Linked DNA regions of Homo sapiens. The protein of the gene in region 4 purifies or fractionates together with the protein of the main gene of each other region. This does not show direct contact. Each region holds a gene or a part of one and is shown on either strand. Other genes may lie near its edges.

Region 1 (3,500 bases), on a different chromosome or scaffold from region 4:
GTCTCTCAGTACTGAAGGGCCCCACGGTGTGGAGCTCAGCAGGAAGGCTGAGGTTCCCTGCGGTTTCCTCATGGCTTAGGACTCAAATGCAAATGTATCTAAAGAAAAAGGTGGTTGATAGTCACAATGAAACTTTTATTTACCTCTGGTTGTCTTAAATGCCTAGTATTGTAAAATATGGCAGAAGAATTCACTTTCATGCCTGTAATCCCAACACTTTGGGAGGCCAAGGTGGGCAGATCCCTTGAGTTCATGAGTTTGAGACCAGCCTGGAAAACATGGCAAGACCCCGTCTCTACAAAAAATACAAAAAAATCCAACCTGACCCACATGGCAAGACCCCATCTGCACAAAAAATACAGAAAGTTCCAGCCTGGAGCCTCCACCTGCAGTCCTGCAGCTCCACCCTGGCTCTTCATGAAATCGGCTAAGTCCAGGTGTGGGTGCGTTCAGTGCAGCACCCACGTGCAGGTGACACGCCCATGCACCGCCACAACCACGCTCACACCAGAACATTCCATCATCCGGAAGGCCCGTGTCTCCGCTCCAGTCTGCTTTTCGTGGATGCAAACTCATTTCCTTGAGTCGTGTGTGGGTGACAGCAGATGGGAGGTTTCTTTTGTGCCTGGCGTCTGTAGCGTGTTTTTCTTTTTCTTTTTTTATCTTTTGAGACGGGATCTCACGATGTTCATGATGTTGCCCCGGCTGGTCTTGAGCTCCTGGCCCAAAACAGTCCTCCTGCCTGGGCCTCCCAAGGGGCGTGTCTTTGAGATCTATCCACGTTGAGGTCGTTGCCAGCAGCACATTCCTCTGAGTGCTGAGCCATGCTCCGCTGGTCGGAGGGACCACAGTGTTTCCTCCACTGATAGAGTTTTGGTTTGTTTCCCGTTTTAGGTTATTATACCTGAAACATCTGCATGTAAGTCTTTGACTGGACCTGTGTTTTCATCTGTCTCAGGCCCACGTTTGGGAGTGTGTCTTTGACTGGACCTGTGTTTTCATCTGTCTCAGGCCCACGTTTGGGAGTATGTGGCTGGCTGGATAGCAGACGTAGCATAGGCCTCACTTTTCTGTGCCGTTTTGCAGTCCCACCTGCAGTGCGTGAGCATCTTGCTCCGAGACCTCACCAGCACTCTGCATTGTGATGTTCTTAATTTCAGCCGTTCCAGCAGATGTGCACTGATGCTGTGTCGTGGCTTGGATTTGTGATGCTTTTAATTTCAGCCGTTCCAGCGGATGTGTACTGATGTGTCCTGGCTTGGATTTGCTTTCACGGTGACCAGTGCTGCTCCTCGTTTGTTCATGTGCTTATTGGCCATTTGTATGTTTTCCTTGTGAAGTGTCTGTTCAATTTTTTGCCTATTTTTTCATTAAATTGTTTATTGAGCTGTATGAGTTCTTTATAAATTCTGGATAAAAAGTATTTTTTTTCTTTTTTTTTTTTGAGATTGAGTCTCGCTCTGTCGCCCAGGCTGGAGTGCAGTGGCGCGATCTCGGCTCACTGCAGGCTCCGCCTCCCGGGTTCACGCCATTCTCCTGCCTCAGCCTCCCGAGTAGCTGGGACTACAGGCGCCCACCCACCACACCCGGCTAATTTTTTGTATTTTTAGTAGAGATGGGGTTTCACCGTGTTAGCCAGGATGGTCTCGATCTCCTGACCTCGTGATCCGCCCGCCTCGGCCTCCCAAAGTGCTGGGATTATAGGCGTGAGCCACCGCGCCTGGCCTGATTTTTTTTTTTTTTTTTTTTTTTGAGACAGATCTTGCTCTGTCTCCCAGGCTAGAGTGCAGTGGCACAATCATCCTAGCGCACTGCAGCCTCAACCTGGGCTTAAGCGAATCTGCCACCTCCCGAGTAGCTGGGACTACAGGTGCCTGCCACCACGCCTGGCTAATTTTTTATAGAGATGGGGTCTCACTGTGTTACCCAGTCTGGTCCTGAACGCCTGGGCTCAAGCAATCCTCTTGTCTCAGCCTCCCAAAGCGTTGGGACTACAGACGCGTGCAGCCTACAAAGTTTTATCAGATATATGTATTGTGAATATTTTCTCCCAGTTTGTGACTTGCCTTTTCATTTCTTTAGGGCACAAATAGTTTACATTTCATGGAGGCAAGTCCTGGGCAACATGCTTTAAGTGCATTGTTCACTTAATTTTCATGATGTCCTTGGAAGTCAGAAGCTTCCCCATTTAGATATGAGGAAACTGAGGCACGGAGGGGTGCATCATCTCTCCAAGGACACACTCCAGTGGATGTAGGACCTGGGTTAGACGTGAGGACACACTCCGGTGAATGTAGGACCTGGGTTAGACGTGAGGGGACACTCCGGTGGATGTCGGACCTGGGTTAGACGTGAGGACACACTCCGGTGGATGTCGGACCTGGGTTAGACGTGAGGACACACTCCGGTGGATGTCGGACCTGGGTTAGACGTGAGGACACACTCCGGTGGATGTCGGACCTGGGTTAGACGTGAGGACACACTCCGGTGGATGTCGGACCTGGGTTAGACGTGAGGACACACTCCGGTGGATGTCGGACCTGGGTTAGACGTGAGGACACACTCCGGTGGATGTAGGACCTGGGTTAGACGTGAGGACACACTCTGGTGGATGTAGGACCTGGGTTAGACATGAGGAAACTGAGGCACAGAGGGGTGCATCATCTCTCCGAGGACACACTCCGATGGATGTAGGAACTAGGTCTCTGCCTCCATTTGCAGATGGTCATGCAGAGGGGGTCTCAGGCGAGTGTCTGGCACAGGCAGTGGCTGGGGTCTGGTGGCCCCCAGTTCTGATACTAGGCTGGTTGTGGGCTTTTCCACCAGCGATGGGACAGGACAAGACTGCAAAGGGAGCGCCCTGCCTCCTCCTCCCACGTCTGGGCTCTGACAGGCCAGAGGACGGGCAGACCCACGGCTCGTGGCTCACTCCAGCTAGCAGCGGTCACTCTGCAGGCCTCTGCTCAGGCCCCTTCTCAGCTCTTGGTGTCTTGGGCTGCTGCACTGAATCTCAGATGTTATTTCATGAACCCAAAGAGTTGTTGTCTCGGCTTGTCTTGCGCAGTGAAAAGCGCGTGTTTTACGTGTCCAGTTGCTCTTAATAGCAGATACCTGCCCTGGACGCCAGTGGCAGCATGTGCCCTCTGAGCAGCGGCCTTCAGCTTCCCAGGAACACGGGGCTCTTCCTGTCCAGCCTCCTGGGGGCTGGTCTCAGCCCTGACTGGCCAGCAGACGCAGGGTCATCTCGGAGTTACCCAGCTAGGGACTCGCAGCCAGTTGCTGGTTGGGAGTTGGAGAGTGGAGTTTAAGCCCTCTCCTTGACGTAGAGAGGATTTGGGGCCTGTTACGTGAGTATTTAGCAATGCTGCCCAAGCTCTGACACCATGCTTATGCGTTTTTGGATTTCAGGCGAGCCCACACCTTAACCGTGCTCTTCATCCTCACCTGTACGCTTGGCTATGTGACGCTGCTGGAGGAAACACCTCAGGACACGGCCTACA
Region 2 (3,500 bases), on a different chromosome or scaffold from region 4:
GGCCCTGGAGCTGCACTGTGTGGGCCCCAAGTGTGGGACTCACTGGGACCTGTGCCTTTGGGCACACTTTGAACCTGGAGACAGGGTGGCGGGTGGGCATGTGCCAAGGTCTCAGTGTTGCCGTGAGACTGAGAGGATCCTGCTGGCTGGGTGGGCCTGGGGGCTGCAGGAGGGAGGGCAGGCTGCTCCGAGTCTTCTTGGACTAGGGAGTGGGTGTAGGGACAGCTGGAAGGTGCAGAGGCTTGGGCAGATCCTCCAGTCAGTGAGAGGGTGATAAAGGTGCTCTAGGCACAGGGGCAGATCCCACCTCCCCATGCCGTTCCATGCAGCCTGCCCTGTAGCCCACATGCTGCTGGCCGCACTGACTGCTTGGAGCTCTGTGGGCACTGGTGGACTGGGGCTTCCTCCTCATGGGGGCCTGTGAGGGGTAGGGGTAGCGCAGTGGGGGTGCTGCCTCTGGGTGGGGCTGGTCAGGCCTGTGAAGGGCCTGAGGTGAGGCTGTGGCTGGGTTGAGGAAGGCCTTGGAAGCCTGTCAAGGGGCCCCTGAGAAAGCTTGTGTAGGATTGTCTGCAGTGAGCTTTGGGAAGCACCACCCTTTCCCGACTCCTGTTTTCATCTTGGAGATGGGCATGGATAAAGCCAGCATGGTGTCCTTGGTGGCTCAAAGGGGGCAGGGGTCATACTGCTGTGAAACAGCTGTGGTTGGTAGGTCGTGGTACAAGAAGGCCAACCCTGAGGCTTGGGATTGTTCTGCTGAAAACAAATGGGCTCGAACTTGGGGAAGAGGGGGCAGTGGAGAGGCCCCCAGACAGACAGCCCAGAGAGGCTGCTGGGCAGTTGGGCCTCGTGCCCCTGCTCCCGTCACGGTGCTGGGGCTCTGGCGGTGTCTACACCCAGCCTCCTGGTTGTGGGCAGGCAGTGAGTGGAGTAGGCTGGGGAGATGAGCCAAGGGCGGTGGTCAGTTGGGAAGACAGCTGCCAACTTGGGGAGGAGGGAGGCTCTGGTGGAGACCACAGCCTCACTGCATGGCCCAGGATGGACCTGGTGGGTGGATGCAGGGCGCTCAGGCTGGAGCTGGGAGAGGCAGGGGCTGGGTGGAGCTGCCTGCCCCTGTGTTCCAGTCTAGATGGGCAGAGGGAAAGGTGTGAGCATCCTCCCTGCCTGGGGGTCTTGGGGACTAGTGTAGACTTGTCCAGGAACTGTGTAGGTGTAGATGGGGCATGTGTTGCACCAACCTTGGTCTTGGGGAGCAAAGGTTGGGCTTGTTGGCATTGCCTCTCGGCCTCCCTGGCCCTTTGCCTCCTGGGCAGGGCCGTCTGACTGCCGACCCCAATCCTAGCCAGCTTGCCTTGGGTGCCCTGAGGGCGTCTGCCTCATGGGGCTCCTGCCATGGCTCTCAGGCCCACTCTCCCTGCCTAGGGGCTCTGAGGGGCAGATGTGCGTGTGCGGGAGGGAAAGGGAGGCTCTGGCCTCTCCTCTTACAAAGTTGAGGACTTGCTCAATGCTGTGTGTGGTGTCCCAGTGGCACGGCAGATGGGGGGTGAGGCGGGCCTGCAGCTAGTGTATATGAGCCAGCACTGCTTCCTAGGACGTGTGGGGGCCTGGCCAAGCTCTTGCTGTCCTTGTCCTAGCTATATGGCAGTCCCTCTATTGGGCTGGGTGCCCTCTTCCACCTGTGCAGTATGCTGAGGACCAGGCAGGGTCTGCCTGTGCCCCTCCAGCGCTGGTTGGGAGATCATGGGTGGGTGCCTGCCTCTGTTGGAAGCCTCTCAGCCAGCAGGCACCTAGCCCCGGGTGGGTTCCTTTCAGCCCCCTCAGCCTGGGCACACATCACAAACAAGTGGAGGCTACACCGGCACACGAGGGCTGGATCCCTGCCTCTGGGAAAGTGCATGTCAGGCTGGTGTGTGGCTGGCGCCTGGCCTGCCTTTGCCAGTTTGAGCCTGCACGTCCAAGTGTGGGGACCCCTTAGCTCCCGGGTGCTGGGATGGGCCAACTGAATAGGGTGGACTCAACCCTCACCACTTGGTCCCCACAGTGCTGGGCAGTGCCCCCTGGTCCATCCCCAGGTTGGACCCTGCTTGTGGCCCCAGTGCTAGTCCACAGCCAGAGTACATGGCAGTGGCCAGAGGCCTCTGGAGAGTGAGGCCTGGAGTGTCCAAGCTCCATGTAGGTCCAGTCCGGGCAGGGCCAGCTGGGCTTGCTTCTGACCCTGACATGCTCGTCCCGCTGCCTGGAGGTGCAGGCTCTGGGGGTCCGGAGAGCTTTGCCCACTGTAGGTCTTGAGGCCACAGTGTGGCTCTGCCTGGCTTCTCCTCCTGGTTGTAAATAAGGAGTGGGGCCTGAGGGCAGACGAGGACACTGGGGTGGGGGCCTGGATCCTGCGGGGGTGGCGCTGCCCTGCTGGTGCCCACTCAGGGGGTGCTTGTGTTGTGCTCTGTCAGGTGCCATCGCCTGCAGGATTCTTTATTCAGCTCTGACAGTGGCTTCAGCAACTACCGTGGCATCCTGAACTGGTGTGTGGTGATGCTGGTGAGTGGGACATGGTGTCGGGAGCGGGTCTAGGTCCAGGTGGGGCTCTGTCCCAGGCTGGCCTTTGCCTGAGAACAGGCTCTGTCACCCAGGGTGTCCAGGCTGGAGCCCCTGTGGGCTGGGGTGTGTGGAGCAGGCTGCACCTCCATGTGGCTGCCAGCACTGGACTGTTGGGGAGGGGAGTGGCAGTGGCTGCCCCTGCTGTGGTCACTTGGGTGCCCATGCACCACATACTTGCTGCTTCCCATTGGATCCCAGGAGAGCCCTGCAGATGTGGTGTGGGCGTGGGGAGGCCGAACAGTGCCTGGCTGGAGCCTGTGTGTTGTGAGCTGGGCCTGAGGGGTGCAGGGCCTCCAGGGAGGGCAGGGTGGAGGGGGTCTTGCCCTGGGCTGGTGGGAGAGTGGACTGCATGCTCTGTGGACACAAGGCCTCTCTGGCAGGGGATGTGAGAAGAGCTTCCTGTGCTACGCCACATGGCCTCTGTGGGTATGGAGCCCTGCAGGCCTGGCCACCACTCTGCAGTCCTCCTGGCCCCTTCCCTCAGCTGTGGGTCCTAGGAGCCCCCCAGGAAGGTGATTAGATGGAGCCCTGTGCCACGTCCAAGGCCTGCTACCTCTGGGCCTGGTTCCCACTGGCACTTCGTGGGGTGGGGCTGCCAGCCCCACCCCAGAAGTAGTTGGAGTCTAGGGCTCAAAGGGGCACCTGCAGGGCAGGTCGGGGACAAGGGCTATCTGGGCCCAGCCTCCCCAACTCAGGGCTGATGTGGCTCGAGGCCTTTGACCTTCACCCAGGCGTGTCTATCTCTGGCCTTGGGTGCTGCTCCTGTGGCTACCCACGTGGAAGGGGCTCCACGCACATCCACATCCCCCACCGCCCATGGTCCTAGAAGGTTCCCTGGGGGTGGCCAGCTGTGGAGGCCCACGAGTCCTGGTGGCTGAGAAGCTGGCCAGGCAGGAGGACAGTGGGCC
Region 3 (3,500 bases), on a different chromosome or scaffold from region 4:
TGTAATGCTAGGACTTTGGGAGGCTAAGGCAGGCAGATCATTTGAGGTCAGGAATTTGAGACCAGCCTGGCCAACATGGTGAAAGCCCCTCTCTACTAAAAAGTACAAGAGAAAAAAAAAATTAGCTGGGCATGGTATTGCACGCTTGCAACCCCAGCTACAAGGGAGGCTGAGGCACGAGAATTACTTGAACCCAGGAGGCGGAGGTTGCAGTGAGATAAGATTGCACCAGTGGACTCCAGCCTGGGCGACAGAGTCTTAACTCTGTCTCAAAAAAAAAAAAAAAAAAAAAAAAGGAAAAAAAAAGGCACCTGAATTCTGGACTCTATCTTCACATGTATTGTTTTTAATTTCTTATAGGCAACAGTATAGAGAATATGTGCATTTATTTTCAAGGACAGAGAAGGCAGAGCATGTTAAACTACCCTCCTACCCAATGACTCATGGATAAGGATAACAGAAACAGGAACAAAATAACAGGTGGGAGCAGGTATAAAGAAGTCAGTTAAAGAGCTGAAATCCTGGGCCCTGTTGGCAAAAAAAAAAATGCAACAAGAAGACGCCTGTGGGCCGGCTGCCGCACAGCCACGGGCCTAGATGCTTTCATAGGGCACTTCAAGACTAAGGTGCTGCTGAATTACTTGTTGCAGGGACTAGCAAATCTGGCCAGCTACCTGCTTTTGTAAATAAAGTTTTATTGGCACCCAGCCATGCTCATTCATTTATGTAATGTCATTCATTACGTAATGTCTGTGACTGCTTTCATACTAGAAGAGTTGAGTGGCTGCGGCAACTGGCAAAGCCTATTTTCTGCCAGGCCCTTTACTGAAAAAGTTTGCTGACTTCACCTATGCTAAACAACTAACATTTCGAAATTAATGTGGTCACAATTTTACCTAAGAAAGTTAACTTCAGAATGATACGGGCAACTTATTTCTTCCTCTATGCCTTTCTTTTCTCAACTGTAAAATTGGGATAACAATCATGCCTACTTCTTAAGACTGCTGGGCAATTAAATGAGCTGAGATAATGCAGGATTAAAGCACTTAGAATAGTGTATAAATACCAGATATCCATTAAATGCTACTGTAATGCAGCTAGGTACGTTTGGCTCAGGGTCAAATTCCCAGTGGAATTTAAAATGTGCTGTAACTCTAAATAAATGATGGTACAATTATGCAATGGATTATTCTGCAGCTGTAGAAAAGAATGAAGACATTTAATATACTGATATGGAAAAATCACCATGATATATTCATCAGGCAAAAAAAGAAAATGCAAGCTGCAGAACAGTGGGTATAGCATCTGCCTTTTATATTTTAAAAAGGAGGAAAATTAAGATTGTGTATTTGTACTTTCTCGTATATGCATAAAGAGACAATAACAAGCTACCAGTCGGGGCTGAGGAGCACTGGAAACCAGGCATAAAGGGAAGGGGTGGGATAGATTTTTCTTTGTGTAACATTTTATATATGTATATATATATATATTTTTTTTTTCCTGAAGGAGTCTCGCTCTGTCACCGAGGCTGGAGTGCAATGGTGCGACATTAGCTCACTGCAACCTCTGTCTCCCAGGTTCAAACAATTCTCCTGCCTCAGCCTCCCAAGTAGCTGGGATTACAGGTGTGCGGCACCACACCTGGCTAATTTTTGTATTTTTAGTAGAGATGGGGTTTCACCATGTTGGCCAGGCTGGTCTTGAACTCCTGACCTCGTGATCCACCCATCTTGGCCTCCCAAAATGCTGGAATTATTGGCATGAGCCACTGTGCCCGGTCCTTTTTAAAAACTTTTGAACCACGTGAATGGATTACCTATGAAAAAATTAAATTAAAAATGCTGTGTCTCAAACAGGTTAGAAGGGAGTACAGATGCTGTGCTCTGGAAATTGCTAGGTTAGTTCAAATGTGCCTCCCATGAAGACACCAACATTAAAAGGCACGTGAAGCATCTAAATGCGAGTCAAAAAATGCGAATGAAAAAACACATGTGATAAATATGATTTAAAATATGTATATACCATGGCATTAAATTAATGGTAAAACAAAAATTTGGCTGTCACACCTCTATCTTCAAGAGTTAATCTAGTCAAAGGCTGTTCTTAGGTTCTTTGCCTTTAAAGGAAAACATCTTGCATCTGGGCTTATACTTCATATTCTTCTCTAGAAATCCAGCAAAATGGAAACATGCAGAATACCTAGTGAAATTTCTCCCTCCTCCCCAACCACCCGACCCTTTTCTATGCATTTACATGCATGTATACAAACACGTTTATCCTATACCTATTATACCAAAATTTGCTTTTTTCACTAAATAGTGTCTTTATCTTTCTAGGATATAAACATAGATCTCCTTTTTCCTTTAATGGCTACATAGTATTTCATAGTATTTTCTAATTTATTCAACCATTATCTATTTGTAACCTACCTCCATTTTTTTTTTGCTATTTTACACTGTACTGCTATGAATATCCTTGTGCACACATCTTTCTACTTCTGCAAGATAAATACATAGATATGGAACTGGGCAAACTCGACAGAACTACTGAGGATGATTTAGATTTATAATTTGCCTCATAACAAATCAATTTCAGATAGAAGAGTTACATGTATTTTTAATGAACCAAATCAGAAGAGCTGACAGGTAATGGAATATTAACAATTAAAATACAAAAGCATTGGTATGCAACAAGATCTACAAAAAAGAAGAAAAATAAAATGCAAAGGCATCAACAGATGGATTTAACTCTAAAAGTATAAAAACTTAATACAATACAAATTCATAACACTAACAAAAAAGGATAAAGAATGCATAAAATGTTTGTAACACATATAAAAATGTACTAGTATCGGGATCCAATAACTAAATGCTAAATGGGCAATAAAAGGAAATTAAAAAGAGTAAAAATTAAAGTAATAGGTACTAATGTGTAACTATTAGCAATTTTTCCAGGTGAAGATTATCGTTACAATTAAAAAAAAAAGAAATTTTACAAAGCATGTCTTAAAAATAAAGACCGCTGGAGCTTCAGGGAAACCAAAGAACTGAGGGAAAAGCAAATTGGTAACACTGATTAAAATTGAAAATATCTGTGTTTTTTGATACTATGCTTGGAAATTTATTTTGTGGAGATAATTCAAAGGAAGGAAGGAGCAGGAGGTCTTTAAACAAAGTTGATCACTGCAGCATTATTTGGAAGTAAAAGGAGTGAAACCTAGATGTTAACAATAACACTTAGGATAAACGACACTATGTTGAAACACAGTTCACATTAAATTATTAGTTTTTGAGACAGCGTCTTGCTCTGACCCCCAGGCTGGAGTGCAGTGGTGTGATCTCGGCTCCCTGCAACCTCCATCTCTTGGACTCAAGTGATTCTCTCACCTCAGCCTTTCAAGTAGCTGGGACTACAGGTGTGTGCCACCACACCTGGCTAATTTTTGTATTTTCTACAGAGACAGAGTCTCACCATGTTGCTCCTGGGCTCAAGTAATCTGC
Region 4 (3,500 bases):
GAGCCAGGAAACAGTGAGGGAGCCCAGCTCTTTTCTACTGGAAAGAGCTGTTTGCCTGTGGTCAAAAGAAAGCTCTTAGTTCCAGTGATCAATGTTGTTTTGTGTAATCTAGTCCCATACTTATACAAATATAGATTATAAAAACAAATCAATCTTTTTAGTTACATAGAATTACATAAAATTATGAGTTTCTAACTTTAAAAATCAGGATATAACCCACATAAAACTGAATATTATAAAGACCAAAGTCTTCCTACTCATTCTCTACTAAAAGACATATTTAATAACAAAATATATGCAAGATAAAGTTATACAGACTTTTAAGAGGTGATGGTTGTGTTGTTAATCTCAAATTCAAAAGTCTTCAGAACAAGTAAAAGAGGCAGGAGAGCTTCGGCTTAGTCAGGAAAATTCTGTGCCCACCATCCCACCTGCCCCCCATTTCCCCCACCAACACCCCAGCAAAGAACTAACAGAAAGAACAAAAAGGAATTTGAGGAGCTGCAAAGAATCCAAGATCCATTTTTTAGTGACAACCTGACAGCATTTTGTTTGAAAATGTTGTCAGTAAAAACAATCTATGGGCCAGGTATGGTGGCTCACATCTGTAATCCCAACACTTTAGGAGGCCGAGCCGGGCAGATCACCTGAGGTCAGGAGTTCAAGACCAGTCTGATCAACATGGCGAAACCTTGTCGCTACTAAAAATACAAAAATTAGCTGGGTGTGGTGGCACTTGCCTGTAATCACAGCTACTCTGGAGGCAGAGACAGGAGAATTGCTTGAACCCGAGAGATGGAGGTTGCAGTGAGCCGAGATCGCGCCACTGCACTCTAGCCTGGGTGACAGAGTGAGACTCCGTCTCAAAAAAATTATGCCAATGTCTTTCCTTATTTGATCTGTTTAAGTGCTTTCCTGTGTAAATGATCCTCTCAACATTACTGCTTGTAGGAAGCAGCCAATTCTGGGCCAGTTTGCTCAGAGCACATCACTATGAAAGTGAAAACTCAGTCTCATGTCTGCTGTAGCTCTTCCCCTAGATCTTCATAGAGCTGACCCCTGGTCATTCAGTTCTCTGCTCAGATGTCACTGGCTGGATGTGAAGAAAGGAGGAAGTGGCATCAGGGATTGACCCAGCTTTCATGTTTGGTGAATGGGATGGACAGTTGTTCCATCAAACACGTCAGGGAATTTAGGAGAAAGTGCAGGCTTGTGCGGAGAGAGATGTAGAGAGCAGAGAAGAGGGGAGGAGAGAGATGGTTAACACGGCTCATTTATGGACACATGGAGTCTGTGGAATACCAAAGTGAAGACGTCCAACACAGTTGAATAGATAGCTCTGGAACACAGGCAAGAAGTGTGGCAGACAGAGGAGAGAAAAGAACATCAGCATACAGATGAGAATAAAAAACCATAAAAGTACATGAGATTACTCTAAGAGAAGGGCAGAGAGTAAGAAGGAAAGAGAGCACAGAACCCTAGAGCACACCAATATTTAAGGGACACAGGAAATAAATTCAGTCACTGTAACTAAGAAAGAATGACCAGACTGGAAGGAGAATGAGAAGAAGAGTGTCAATGGAAGATTCATAATGTCAAATATGATAGAAGAGTCAAGTAAGATATGGGCTGAGAAACTGAAATATGTCCATTGAATTATGTCCTTTACTATTGTTGTTTCAGTAGCGTGACAAGAATGGAAACCAGTGGGTTGAGAGAGCTGGGTTGGGGGGAAGATGTGGGATGATATGTACACTTTTTTCTCCTAAACTGAGGAGAAAGAAAAGAGAGCAATAGCTGGAGAAAGGATGAAGAATCTAGGAAGGAATCTTTTTTAAATGGAAGAGTATGAGAAGCCTGGATGCAGGGGCGAGGAGAGGCTGAAATTACAGGTGAGAGAGCAAAAAGCTGACAGATTCAATGGCAAAAAATGATGGAATCCAGAGCATAGGGTTTGATGGGTGTTCAGTGGGAGGAGGGTACCCAAAACCAGAAGAAACGACTGATGGAGACGCAGGTAGGGTAAGAGAGGAGGAAGCTGAGAGAATTTTTCAATGCTCTCTGTGAAAACGGTTAGTGGGGATATCAGGGGAATGGAAGTCGAGGCTGAACAAGAATAAATGAGAGAATTGATTTAGAGAAGGGGTCAGAAAACTTCACGGTCTAAAAAAGAAAAGTGACTTGCTTGAGGTTGCATTGCTGGTTAATGCTTAAGAAGATAGCAGCAAGAGGAAGGGGCCTGGTTTGGTGAGAGGATCTAACATGTACTGAGGCTCTATTACATCCCAAGCACTCTTCTTGGTGCCTTATGTATGGTCACTTAGATCACACAATGCTATCCTATAAGGCATATACTTACTAGTATCCCCATTGTGTTGATGAAAAATGTGAGGCTAAATAACGTGTTCAAGGTCATAATGTCCATAAGCATTTAAGCTGTTATTCAAAGCCGTGTCTTTTGACTTCAGGCCTGGTAGCAATCCAGGGGCCCAAAGCCAGTGCCTTTTCCACTCTACCAAATTTTTTTTTCATTAGTACTTGTTAAGTGTCCTGCTGTCCCCAACAGCAATAAAAAATACTGAGTGCTAGACAGGCATGGTGGCTCACGTCTGTAATCCCAGCACTTTGGGAGGCTGAGGTGGGCAGATCACCTGAGGTAAGGAGTTTGAGACCAGCCTGGCCAACGTGGTGAAACCCTGTCTCTACTAAAAATAGAAAAAAATAGCCAGGTGTGGTGGCAAACACCTGTAATCCCAGCTACTCGGGAGGCTGAGGCATGAGAATTACTTGAACCCATGAGGCAGAGGTTTCAGTGAGCTGAGATTGCACACTGCACTCCAGCCTGGGTGACAAAGCAAGACTCTACCTTAAAAAAAAAAAAAATGAACTGAGTGCCTCAGTTCATTGACTTTTTCCACTGAGTTTCCTCAGCGGAAAAGTCAATTCAAGACTAAAATATTTAAAGTATAATATTTTTGTTCACTACAAAAATTATCACTACATAAACACACAAATCCTGCTGCCACTTTGGTTGCTAATGGGAACCAGTTGATGAAACCAGCAATATAAAAGGTAAGACACTATGTAAACTAAAGAGATCAAAGGTGGTTTCTAGCTCCTAGCTTCTTCTTTGCTGAAGTACACCATATTGATGGTGAGCATCTTATATTTATGATTTTTATGGAAACCCTCAGTAACCAAAAGACATTTTAAAATGCAAAGTACACACACACACACACACACACACACACACACGAAACTATCAATTGTGTTTATAGGTTAGCTGAGTAGTATCTACAGGAACACACAAAAAAACCCACAGAATGTCGTAACAATTAACACATATAACACTTACTATATGCCAGTTAATGTTGGGGTTTTATATATCATTTAACACTCCCCAGAGTCCTACTAAGTAGGACCTATTATTGTACAAATGAAGAAACAGAGGTACAAGATGATTAATTAACTTGCTCAGTGTCACATAACTAGTAAGCAGC
Region 5 (3,500 bases), on a different chromosome or scaffold from region 4:
AACAAATCTTCCTAAGTAGGGAAGGAAGGGCAAATATAAAAAAGAAGCAATTGAGAAGATGCAGGAATAAGGTATCTTATATACAACTTTCATTAAAAATTGCTAAAATGGGCCAGGCGCAGTGGCTTACGCCTGTAATCTCTACACTCTGGGAAGCCAAGGCGAGCAGAACCCTTGCAGTCAGGAGTTAAAGACCAGCCTGGCCAACATCGTGAAACCCCGTCTCTACTAAAAGTACAAAAACTAGCCGGGTGTGGTGGCACATGCCTGTAACCCCAGCTACTCAGGAGGCTGAGGCAGGAGAATTGCTTGAACCCAGGAGGTGGAGGCTGCAATGAGATTTCACCACTGCACTCCACACTCCAGCCTAGGCAACAGAGAAAGACTCCATCTCAAAAAAAAAAAAATCTGCTAAAATTTTAAATTAAAGTCCCAGCTACTTGGGAGGCTGAGAGGGGAGGATCCCTTGAACCCAGGAGGTGGAGGCTGCAATGAGATTTCACCACTGCACTCCACACTCCAGCCTAGGCAACAGAGAAAGACTCCATCTCAAAAAAAAAAAAATCTGCTAAAATGAAGCTGGGTGCAGTGACACAAGCCTGTAGTCCCAGCTACTTGGGAGGCTGAGAGGGGAGGATCCCTTGAACCCAGGAGGTCGAGGCTGCAGTGAGCTATGATCACACCATTGCACTCCAGCCTGGGTGATCTGACAGGACACCTTGTATCTAAAAAAAGAAGACTCGGCTGGTCTGAAGGTAGTAGTGAATTAGCTCAACTGATTGTTCACAGTCAGTTACAGATCAAACTTCTACTCTTTCCCCTCTTCTCACTACTGCACTTGACTACTCTTAAAAAAATTTCTTTTAGTCCAGGTGTGGTGGCTCACGCCTGTAAGCCCAGCACTTTGGGAGGCTAAGGTGGGTGGATCACTTGAGGTCAGGAGTTTGAGACCAGCCTGGCCAACATGGCAAAGCCCCGTCTCTACTAAAAATACAAAATTAGCCAGGCATGGTGGCGGGCGCCTGTAATCCCAGCTATTCAGGAGGCTGAGGCAGGAGAATCGCTTGAACCCAGGAGGTGGAGATTGCAGTGAGCTGAGATCACACCACTGCATTACAGCGTGGGTGACAGAGAGAGACTCTGTCTAAATAAACAAACAAACAAACAAACAAAATTTGTTTAAAATTCTAAAGTGAAAAAAAGTATAATCCGATTATCTTACAAAACCAAACAAATAAACAAGCCCCAAAGTTGTTTTCATAGAGGGATGTTATGTATACTAAAGGGCACTGCAAGACTCTTAGACTTCAGGTACTGCTGCTGTGCCCAGAGGCGGGAACCCTGGTTGGTTGTCTAACGTGGTAATTTGTTATGACCTGACAGCTGTGTGTCCCTAAAAGACCTAAGTGCTTGGGGAAACTGAAGAGGTGCATTGGTCTTTCCCTCATCTCCCGCATGCGTGAAAACATAACCCAGCTAATGAACATTACTTCTCAACCTGAGAATTCGGAGTCTTTGACTCATGGAGACCAGGCACAGTCCAGGCCACTCTCCTGCATGCCCAGCTCCCTAGCCTTGTGTGGCTCCCTCATTACACTGGCCACATCATTGTTAGCTTTGTTTGTGTCTCCTTGGCTCGATGGAAAGATTCCCCAACGGTGTGGATAGTATTGTTCAGTTTGCTACTGTAGTTCCAGGTCTTGCCTGGTATATAGTTGGCACGCAGTAAATACTTGTTGAAAGAACAAATACATGAGTGAATGTACAGTTGGATGAACATGATTAAAAGAATAAGGATAAACATGATTAAAAGAATTAGGAGAAACAAGGAAAAAAACTTTCCTTAGGAAGCTTCCATTCTATCTATTACCAAATAAAAAAGAAGGGTGTGTTTACATAGCTACACGTTATGAAACCGGGTGGATAAATACCCAAGATGCTTACCAAGGAGGGTGCATGAAACAACCCACAGGGTTCTTACGATTCCAAATTATGCAACTGCATCTATGGCAAGTAATTTCACATAAACCCTTTGTTTCAGTTTTTCTTATTCTAAATTGGGCACATAGGTTTTGTGCCCAGGGCACACTGGATTTTGAAATTTCAAACAAGGAACACATAAAGGGTCATTTCATGGTATCAATACTGTGCCTGGCACATATTAGCTGCTCAGTGAAATTAGAGTGAATACATGGATATGCAAATAATAGCTCAAACAAGCCTAGCATAACTCTGAGAGCAAAAAGCTGATTTGTTCCAAGTAGTGCAGCTCTTTAGAGCCAGTGGGGCCCCATGGGTATAAACTGGAATTTTTACTATGCTGCTCCTGTGCTTACCGTTTGTTAACTTGCTCCACAGCAATGTTGAGGCGATGTGCAATGTCTTCCACTGTTTCACTGTTGGCTGAAATGATCCCCACACTCTTGGCAATAGCTTTGGCTGTGATGGGATGATCACCAGTAACCATAATAACCTAGAGCAAAGACAACGAGAAGGCCCACGGGTAATGAAGAACTCGGTTGGCCAAAGTGGGGATGGTTCAGTAATACCTACTCTGTAGTGCCCTGGGAGAACGTGGTTGGTGATTACAGTGGCAGCTCTGGATCTACGAGACAACTGTCTTTGGAGGAAACACTAATCCCATTGGGTCTACCCTTGCTCCTAAGCTTCATACGCTTCCTCCTCTGACATGAAAGGAAGCCCTTCCCCTTTGATGCCACTTTATTTGTGAAAGGGCTGGTGAGTGTCTACTTGGGGGTAGCCCCATGTTACTTCAACAGTCTTAATATTAACCTAGTAATGATGAACATGGATTATGGGGGCTGAGCCTCAAGACTGAGTAATAAAGCCTTTTTTCTTTCTTTTTTTCTTTTCTTTTCTTTCTTTCTTTTTTTTTTTTTTTTTTTGAGACAGAGTTTCACTCTTGTTGCCCAAGCTGGAGTGCAATGGTGTGATCTCGGCTCACTGCAACCTCTGCCTCCTGGATTCAAGAGATTCTCCTGCCTCAGCCTCCCGAGTAGCTGGGATTACAGGTGTGTGCCACCACATCTGGCTAATTTTTTTGTATTTTTAGTAGAAACGGGGTTTCACCATGTTGGCCATGGCTGGTCTGGAACTCCTGACCTCAGATGATCCGCCTGCCTCAGCTTCCCAAAGTGCTGGGATTTCAGGCATGAGCCACTGCGCCCAGCCAATAAAGCCTTTTAGTATCTACCATGGACTAGGGCGAGATATGGTCACTTCAAGGCACTAGGAGATTCTTCTCATTGCATTTACTGTTTATGTGGTTCATTCCACATAGACACAATCATTTTCTTTTTGTGGGACAGTTTCAGTAACCTTAGCACAGTGAAACTAGAAATAAAATAGGAATTATGATATTTACTTGAAGACACCTAAATACTGACCATCTGCTATGAAAACCATTATTAGAAAGGAACACGACATAAAGAAAGAACTTCTTGAGTCAGGAAAATAACTCCCACCTTGATCCCTGCACT
Region 6 (3,500 bases), on a different chromosome or scaffold from region 4:
GCTGATTTCTACAATATCTTGCGGAGGTGCCCCCTTTCCTTAGAGGATGCATCTTTAACACTCTCAGAGAGGCTGGGGCAGGAGCTGTCCACACCAGGGCCTGCAGCAAGGGCCCGTCTTCCCCAAAGTGACTTGGGAGAGTCTTCCTGGCCCGCAGCTTTTCCACAGTGTCAGGGACACCTCCTGCCCTCCCTTGGGATGAGGCCTGGTCTAGGAGCTGGGGGCGTTAGGGTGCAGTTTCTGGGACCCAGTGAAGGCCCCTGGGAAAGACTGGCAGTTAGAGTTAGGAGAACTCTTCCCTCATCCCTTTTGCCCTTCTCCTTTTCCCCTTTTCTTTTTCAGCAGTTTTTGGATAACATTTCAAACTTAAAGAAAAGTTGCAGAGGCCAGGCATGGTGGCTCACGCCTGTAATCCCAGCACTTTGGGAGGCTGAGGCAAACAGATCACTTGAGGCCAGGAGTTTGAGACCAGCCCTGGCCAACATGGTGAAACTCATGTCTACGAAAAATACAAAAGTTAGCCTGGTGTTGGTGGCGCATGCCTATAGTTGCAGCTACTCGGGAGGCTGAGACACAGGAATCACTTGAACCCGGGAGGCGGAGGTTGCAGGGAGCCGAGATCACACCACTGCACTCCAGCCTGGGTAACAGAGTGAGATACTGTCTCAAAAAAAAAAAAAGAAAGAAAAGAAAAGAAAATTTGCAGGAGTGCAAGGAACTCCTGGGTACCGTCTCTCAGATGCACAGGTGGGTTATGTTTTGCCTCCTTCTATTCTCTCTCCACCCCACACAAACTCACATGCACACAGACACATACATTTTTTTCTGAACCATTTGAGAGTCAGCTGAAGACGTCATGCCATTTTATTTGCCCTCTATACTTCAGTGTATATTTCCTAAGAACAAGGCTCTTCTCTCACATAACCATGGTACAATAGCAAAGTCAGGAAATTTAACATTAATACAACCCTGCGATCTAGGCCACAGTCCATATTTGACTTGCAGTCGTCCACATAATGTCCTTTATAGCTAAGTATTTTTGGGGAAGGAGTTTTGCAGTGTGGGGGTTCTTTCAAAAGAGGTGTGATTTTCTACCTCATAAGCCTTTTTAAGAAAAAGTGTTTCTAAAAGTTAGAATGTTTGTTGTGGAAAATTTGGAAACTACAGAAAATTAAAAGAAGGAGAAAATAAAACCCATTCATAATTCCAGCTCAGAGGCTGAGTGATCGACCAGAAAGGTGGTGGAAAGACTTTCTCAGCTCCTTCAGCTCTGGTGACCTGGCCACACAGACTCGTGATCCCTCCACCACCCACACACTAGTCAGGAGCCCCGCAGCCAAGTCCTGGGGCTGTGGGAGGAGCCGGCCCCTGTCTGGAGCTGACGGTCTTTCATGCTCCTGCCCACCCCTTGGGCAGGTGCCCACCGAGCAGGCAGACTTAACCAGCCTTGGTGGTGCCTTTGTGGTGCATATCCTCCAGGTGGGGAAGGGTGGAGATCGTTAATAAATATCCAGAACTTGTTTGAGACTTGAAAAGAAATGTTGCAGGCCCACTCTTGTCTGGTCTATACCCCTTGCTTCCTGGACTTGGCAGAGGTTAAGGATGGGGCCTGGAGCGTGATTGAGGGAAACAGCACTGGCCCCATATCAGTGAGCTCTTGGGTGCTTCATGTGGTTGTTAGACTTGCCTTTTAATGAGCCTCTTGGCCCCTACCAGTGGGCTACGGAAGAAATAAAATGTGAAATTTTACCATGTGAAGTTTGCTGTTTGCCAATGACTGTGCTTCTCAAAAGTTCCTAGGGAAAGGTTTTAAAACTGGTGCAGGTAGTGAAGTTTGGATCTCGCTTCCCTGCTTTGTCCGCTTAGGTGGTCCATTCGCCATAACAGCTGGAACTGAGAGTGGCTCTCCCCTTTCCTGGCCCAGAACGGGTCTTTGCTAAGCGAGTCTGGTTTCTGGAAGGATTTTGTTCTTAGAAGCTACTACGTCATTGTCCTCAGCTCCCCATCATTTGTACCTCAGTTTCCCTGAGCTGTAAGTCTATGTTATGTGTGAAAATGGGCCTCTGAAGGTCATGATCAAAAGCCTTGAGTATTTTTCCATGTGTTTGTTTTTTCTACTCCGGCCCCAGACCCTCTCCTTGAAGGAGCTGGCCTTGAGAGTGACTTCGGTGGGCAGCCGCCCAGACTCCACACACCCTGCTGAGTCCACGTAACGCCCAACCTGGACGGGCCAGAGCTGAAGGGCTACTCTTCAAAGAAACCCTTTGAAGTGCAAACATTTCCTTTCCTGAAAAGAAGGGAAATTGAAATGAAAACGTATTGTTCTGTGCAGACAATGTTCTCTTCGATCAAAGAGGGAGTGGGGCTTATAAAGGGAGATGCACAAATTAGAGCTTGATGTGGCCAGTGGTGTGGATGTGAATATTCATCCCTGTGGAGGAAAATAGTGGGGTCTCTGAGATTTGTAAGATTGTATTTTCCTTTTTTTTCTTCTTTTTCCTTAAGGCTCTGAATCTAGGTCTAACGTTCTATTTAATGATGTCTCTCCTTTGTGTTTTTATCTTGTGGTAAGCATTTGGGAGTGTCTTTCAGTAAATCATGATACCATTTCCATGTTAGAATACTATGTAGCCAGTAAGAATGGCGTTTTCAAAGAACATTTGATTTTGTGGGAGAAACTTTAATGTTAAAAGTGAAACCATCTGGGTGCAATTTCCCATGTTCCGTGTTAGCTTAATGAGATATATGTATTTGCACAGAAAGAAAAGACTGGAAAAATTGGACTTTGTTTTTCTCACTGCAGTGTTTGTGGCACCTAAAATAGTGCTCAAGAAATATTTATTGAATGACTATTCTTATAATTAGTAAAACTGTATTTAAAGGAGGAATGTCTTTGAGCTAATGTTTTGGCAGGTGGATGGGACAATATATTATTTTAAGTTTCTGTTGTAATTTTGCCCTAGCAGCTCAGTTCTGGTAGATTTTGTTCTTTGGCACACATACATACCCCATTTTGCACTTTGGTACAAATTATACTGTGAATGGGTGACTTTGACATTTATATTTTTGGAAGAATCCAGTTCTACTGAAATCAGAGTATCAGATGTTGTCTTTTTCCTAATGTTCCCAGATGGGGTAGAATTACAGCTTCTTCTTACTTACTCTGTAACTAAGGAACCTTTGGGCCAGTTTGTCCTGTCCTGTGGTTGAGAATTTTTGCCTGGTTTGCCCAGGGTTTCTCATCCTTGAGCATCCAAGGCTACCAAGATACACTGTTCATATGTCGTCCTGGTTTCTAATGGATAGTTATCTAAAAATGCAGCTTCCCATTCTTACCTGCACTGTAGGTTAGCTTGGAAGATGTCCATCCCTGGTCTCAGTGGTCTTGTTCAGGGAGGGTGACTGTCACAGCTGTCCTTTCCTCTCTGGTGAGATTGTTTCATTCCTCCTTCAGGCACTTGGGATTCAGAGCCCTGTTGGCTGCCTCTTCTGTACTGTCA
Region 7 (3,500 bases), about 26 Mb from region 4:
TATAGTCCCAGCTACTTAAGATGCTGAGGCAGGAGGATCACCTGAGCCCAGGGAGGTAGAGGCTGTAGTGAGCCATGACTGCGCCACCATACTCCAGCCTGGGCAATAGAGTGAAACCCTGTCTCAAAATATATATATATGTATGTATATACACACACATATACACACATACACTGTCAGAGGTTATTTAATGAAAAGCAATCCTTATTAAAGATTTATATTTACTTATTTATTTTTTACACGGCGTCTCACTCTGTTACCCAGGCTGTAGTGCAGTGGCGTGCGTTCTTGGCTCATTGCAACCTCCGCCTCCCACGCTCAAAAGATCCTCCCACCTCAGCCTCCCAAGTAGCTGGGACCACAGATGCATGCCACCACGCCAGGCTAATTTTTTCTATTTTTGGTAGAGATGGGGTTTCGCCATGTTGCCCGGGCTGGTCTTAAACTCCTGAGCTTAGGTGATCTACCCGCCTCGGCCTCCCAAAGGGCTGGGATCACAGGCGTGAGCCATCATGTCCAGCCTAGATAAAGATTTTGAGATTAAAATGTTACTGTGTGTTGACAGACCTCTTAAAGTTCTGTATTCAGAAGAAACACATAAGCCATCAGAGGAAGACAGGTGCCAGCCTCAAATGCAAATAAATGGGCATCGAAGGGCAGGAGAATTCTGGGAGGATTTGGGAAGGCTGGTGGAGTTGTACTCCTGACTGTATCCTCAGGGCCTAGACAGTGTCTACCACATGGTAGGTGCTCAGTATTTGTTCAATGGAATAGAAGGATCTGAGCTGTGGGTTAGGATAGTAAAATTTAAAAAAACCTTTTTCCTGTCTACATACTCAATGCCTCCCCTATTCCCAACACCTGAGAGATTTGGAATTTGGAGTAATAATGTACAGGGGAGATCAGGTAAGTCAGGTTGAGAAGGATGTGTTTATGTAGGTGTGTATTTCTGTACACTTGCTATACTTGTATACAAATTAGTTATCATGTGTTCAGTGTGGTCTTGCTGCCTTTCCGTGAAGGCAGGAATCACAGCTGTCCTATTCTTCACTATCTCCTAGCAGTGTCTGAGAAGTTGGTAAGTGCTTCATACTCTTTGTTAATTGAATGAATGAAGCAACACAAATAAGAGTAATGTTGTAGAACTGGTGTTGAAGCTGACTAATCTCAAAAACATTTCCACTTGCTTTAGTATAAACAGACTGCAACTCATTCTATCTGCAATCATTTCAATAGATTCTGATCCAGAGCCTCCCAGGGTTGCCTTACGCTTTTTTTCCTCTACCAACTGGAAACTTGGTTCTTCATCTTTACAGCATTTAAAGGTACAAACAATACGAACATTTCATAATACCAGATGCTGGGAGCCACAGGCCTAGAACATATTACAGAGCCACCAAGCCACGTTCATTTTGAAAAGATTACATTAATGCTGTTTTCAAACTTATAATTACCAGCCTTCTAGAAACTCCTTACCATCTTGAGTAACTGAAAGCATAAAGTGGCAGCTGTCAATTCCACCCTCCTGCAACATCTCCATAGGCCAAATGATCAGGCCACATGGTGAGGAGTTACTTCAGCTGAGAAATCATGGGCTCATTCCTTCAGCAGCTACATGGTTCTATCTAAAGGGGGAGGCACAAATGTATATACATAAGAATACATGCAGCTCTCTTGCTGGAGAAGCAGCAGAGGCATTTTTATATGTTGCAAATTCTGTGTGTGGTTGGTGATTCTGAGGCCATACCAGAAAATATGAGTTCTAATGGCAGAAAATAATTTTTTTTTTTTTTTTTTTTAGACAGGGTTTCACTATGTTGCCCAGGCTAGTCTTAAACTCCTGGCCTTGAGCAATCCTCCCATCTCTGCCTCCCGAAGTGTTGGGATTACAGGTGTGAGCCACTATACCCATCCAGGAAAGAACTTTTCAGAATAAGACAGCAATAGCATTGCAAATATTGTAAGAGTCAGGGATGCAGTTGAATTTGGTTAATCAAGAGCTTTAGAAAATTTGCAATATGGCTTAATGGAAAAAATATTTCACTTCCTATTATTAGCAGCTTTAGTTCCAATTAGCCTGTGACCTCGAGCTTTTACATTTCAGAAGTTACGGGGTTCAAGAGGATCAGTATTTCTCCTAGGGGTGTATAATCACAATCACTTAGGAAGTTAGAGAAAAAGAAAAAAACAACAGATGCCTGGACCCTGCCAAGAACTATACATTTTGAATCACGGAAGGTGACACCTGGGCATATAGGTATATTTATTTAAATTTTCTTTTGAGCCAGACCAATCCAGTGCCTCTCAGATTTTAATGTACCTATGAATCATCTGAGACTTTTGTTAAAATGTAGATTCTAACCCAGTAGGTCTGAAATGGGGCCTGAGATGCTTCACTTCTGACAAGCTCTCAGGCGAAAGATGCTGCTGTTCCATGGCTCACACACTGAACAGAGTTCTCCAGCTCAAATCATTTGGCATTCCATTAAGCACAAAGAAGTTTTCATCCACAACTAGAATGTATCACACGCTTAGTACTTAAATTGCAAGTGTCATTAGGTGTTGCCTTTGTTTTTCACTTTGAAGATCAAGGTAGAGACTTCTATTGTTGTGTGTGATGTGAAAAGAATATCTTAATCCCAAAACGTCTCACATCAAGGATGCAGAAGGTAAGCTATGGCAACTTCGATCTTAGACACTTTTCCTTCTTGATGTAAAGGATCCAAAGGCATTTCCAGCAAAACGCAAGTTTCCTAGCCTGTTATTCATGCTATTCCTTTTAAATAATTCAATCTCTTCTGATCAGAAGTTTAAACACAGATTTATCTCTATCCTAATCCCTCTTAATCTCCGTCTTGGTATGGGCAGTTTTTTCCAGTGTTTCTGGATCTAGATAGTATTTGCTATGTTCTTCCCTCACCCTTCCTGAAATCTTGAAGAGGAGGCCCTCTCTATCCTCATCTAAGCCAGTTTCCAACATTGGAGAGCTGAGGCTAGAGCACTCCTACAATGCCCTTGAGGCTCTCCTCACCAGCAGGGGATGGAACCATTGTTGAACACTCTTTTATCCAGGTCACATTTTCACATATACTCTACCAAGATATTCTGAGAAACTAGAGAGAAGTCTGTGGAGGATCCAGATGAACAGCTGCCAGCACTGCTCTGACCTACCCATCTACTAGCATCACCGAAAGAGGATAGTTCTCTTTAGAATGAGAAGTGTTCTGGAATCAAGGACGCTCCCTAACTCTGAAGATGTTTGGTTTCTTCCTTGTGACTCATAGTAAGACAGAACAGTAGTTAAGAGCACAAGCCTAAGTTTGTGACTTTGAGTAAATCATTTAACCTCTCTGAGCCTCAGGTTTAATGATAAAAAAAAAGTAACAGTTTTTTAAAATTGGGTTCTATGACATAATGCAGGTAAAATACTTTGCAAGGTACCTGACACACAGAGCACTCAATAAATATTTATATTATTAAATGATAAAGAAAGAAAAGAG

Evidence for each region.
Region 1: the proteins of ACKR2 (region 4) and PTDSS2 purify together in Homo sapiens (affinity purification with mass spectrometry; one large-scale study listed by BioGRID and IntAct). This does not show direct contact.
Region 2: the proteins of ACKR2 (region 4) and DGAT1 purify together in Homo sapiens (affinity purification with mass spectrometry; one large-scale study listed by BioGRID and IntAct). This does not show direct contact.
Region 3: the proteins of ACKR2 (region 4) and VKORC1L1 purify together in Homo sapiens (affinity purification with mass spectrometry; one large-scale study listed by BioGRID and IntAct). This does not show direct contact.
Region 5: the proteins of ACKR2 (region 4) and ATP12A purify together in Homo sapiens (affinity purification with mass spectrometry; one large-scale study listed by BioGRID and IntAct). This does not show direct contact.
Region 6: the proteins of ACKR2 (region 4) and SLC7A1 purify together in Homo sapiens (affinity purification with mass spectrometry; one large-scale study listed by BioGRID and IntAct). This does not show direct contact.
Region 7: the proteins of ACKR2 (region 4) and ARL6IP5 purify together in Homo sapiens (affinity purification with mass spectrometry; one large-scale study listed by BioGRID and IntAct). This does not show direct contact.

Annotation. Positions count from the first base shown.
Region 1 is NC_000011.10:456,779-460,278, forward strand, and holds part of PTDSS2 (phosphatidylserine synthase 2), read left to right. Parts: intron 1-3,408; coding exon 3,409-3,500. UniProt on the Homo sapiens protein: Catalyzes a base-exchange reaction in which the polar head group of phosphatidylethanolamine (PE) or phosphatidylcholine (PC) is replaced by L-serine. Catalyzes the conversion of phosphatatidylethanolamine and does not act on phosphatidylcholine.
Region 2 is NC_000008.11:144,320,353-144,323,852, reverse strand, and holds part of DGAT1 (diacylglycerol O-acyltransferase 1), read left to right. Parts: intron 1-2,444; coding exon 2,445-2,532; intron 2,533-3,500. UniProt on the Homo sapiens protein: Catalyzes the terminal and only committed step in triacylglycerol synthesis by using diacylglycerol and fatty acyl CoA as substrates. Highly expressed in epithelial cells of the small intestine and its activity is essential for the absorption of dietary fats.
Region 3 is NC_000007.14:65,949,574-65,953,073, reverse strand, and holds part of VKORC1L1 (vitamin K epoxide reductase complex subunit 1-like protein 1), read right to left. Parts: intron 1-3,500. UniProt on the Homo sapiens protein: Involved in vitamin K metabolism. Can reduce inactive vitamin K 2,3-epoxide to active vitamin K, and may contribute to vitamin K-mediated protection against oxidative stress.
Region 4 is NC_000003.12:42,815,945-42,819,444, reverse strand, and holds part of ACKR2 (atypical chemokine receptor 2), read right to left. Parts: intron 1-3,500.
Region 5 is NC_000013.11:24,700,908-24,704,407, reverse strand, and holds part of ATP12A (potassium-transporting ATPase alpha chain 2), read right to left. Parts: coding exon 3,486-3,500; intron 2,474-3,485; coding exon 2,337-2,473; intron 1-2,336. UniProt on the Homo sapiens protein: The catalytic subunit of a H(+)/K(+) ATPase and/or Na(+)/K(+) ATPase pump which transports K(+) ions in exchange for Na(+) and/or H(+) ions across the apical membrane of epithelial cells.
Region 6 is NC_000013.11:29,585,689-29,589,188, reverse strand, and holds part of SLC7A1 (high affinity cationic amino acid transporter 1), read left to right. Parts: intron 1-2,396; exon of another isoform or gene 2,397-2,464; intron 2,465-3,500. UniProt on the Homo sapiens protein: High-affinity, low capacity permease involved in the transport of the cationic amino acids (arginine, lysine and ornithine) in non-hepatic tissues.
Region 7 is NC_000003.12:69,087,937-69,091,436, reverse strand, and holds part of ARL6IP5 (PRA1 family protein 3), read right to left. Parts: intron 1-3,500. UniProt on the Homo sapiens protein: Regulates intracellular concentrations of taurine and glutamate. Negatively modulates SLC1A1/EAAC1 glutamate transport activity by decreasing its affinity for glutamate in a PKC activity-dependent manner.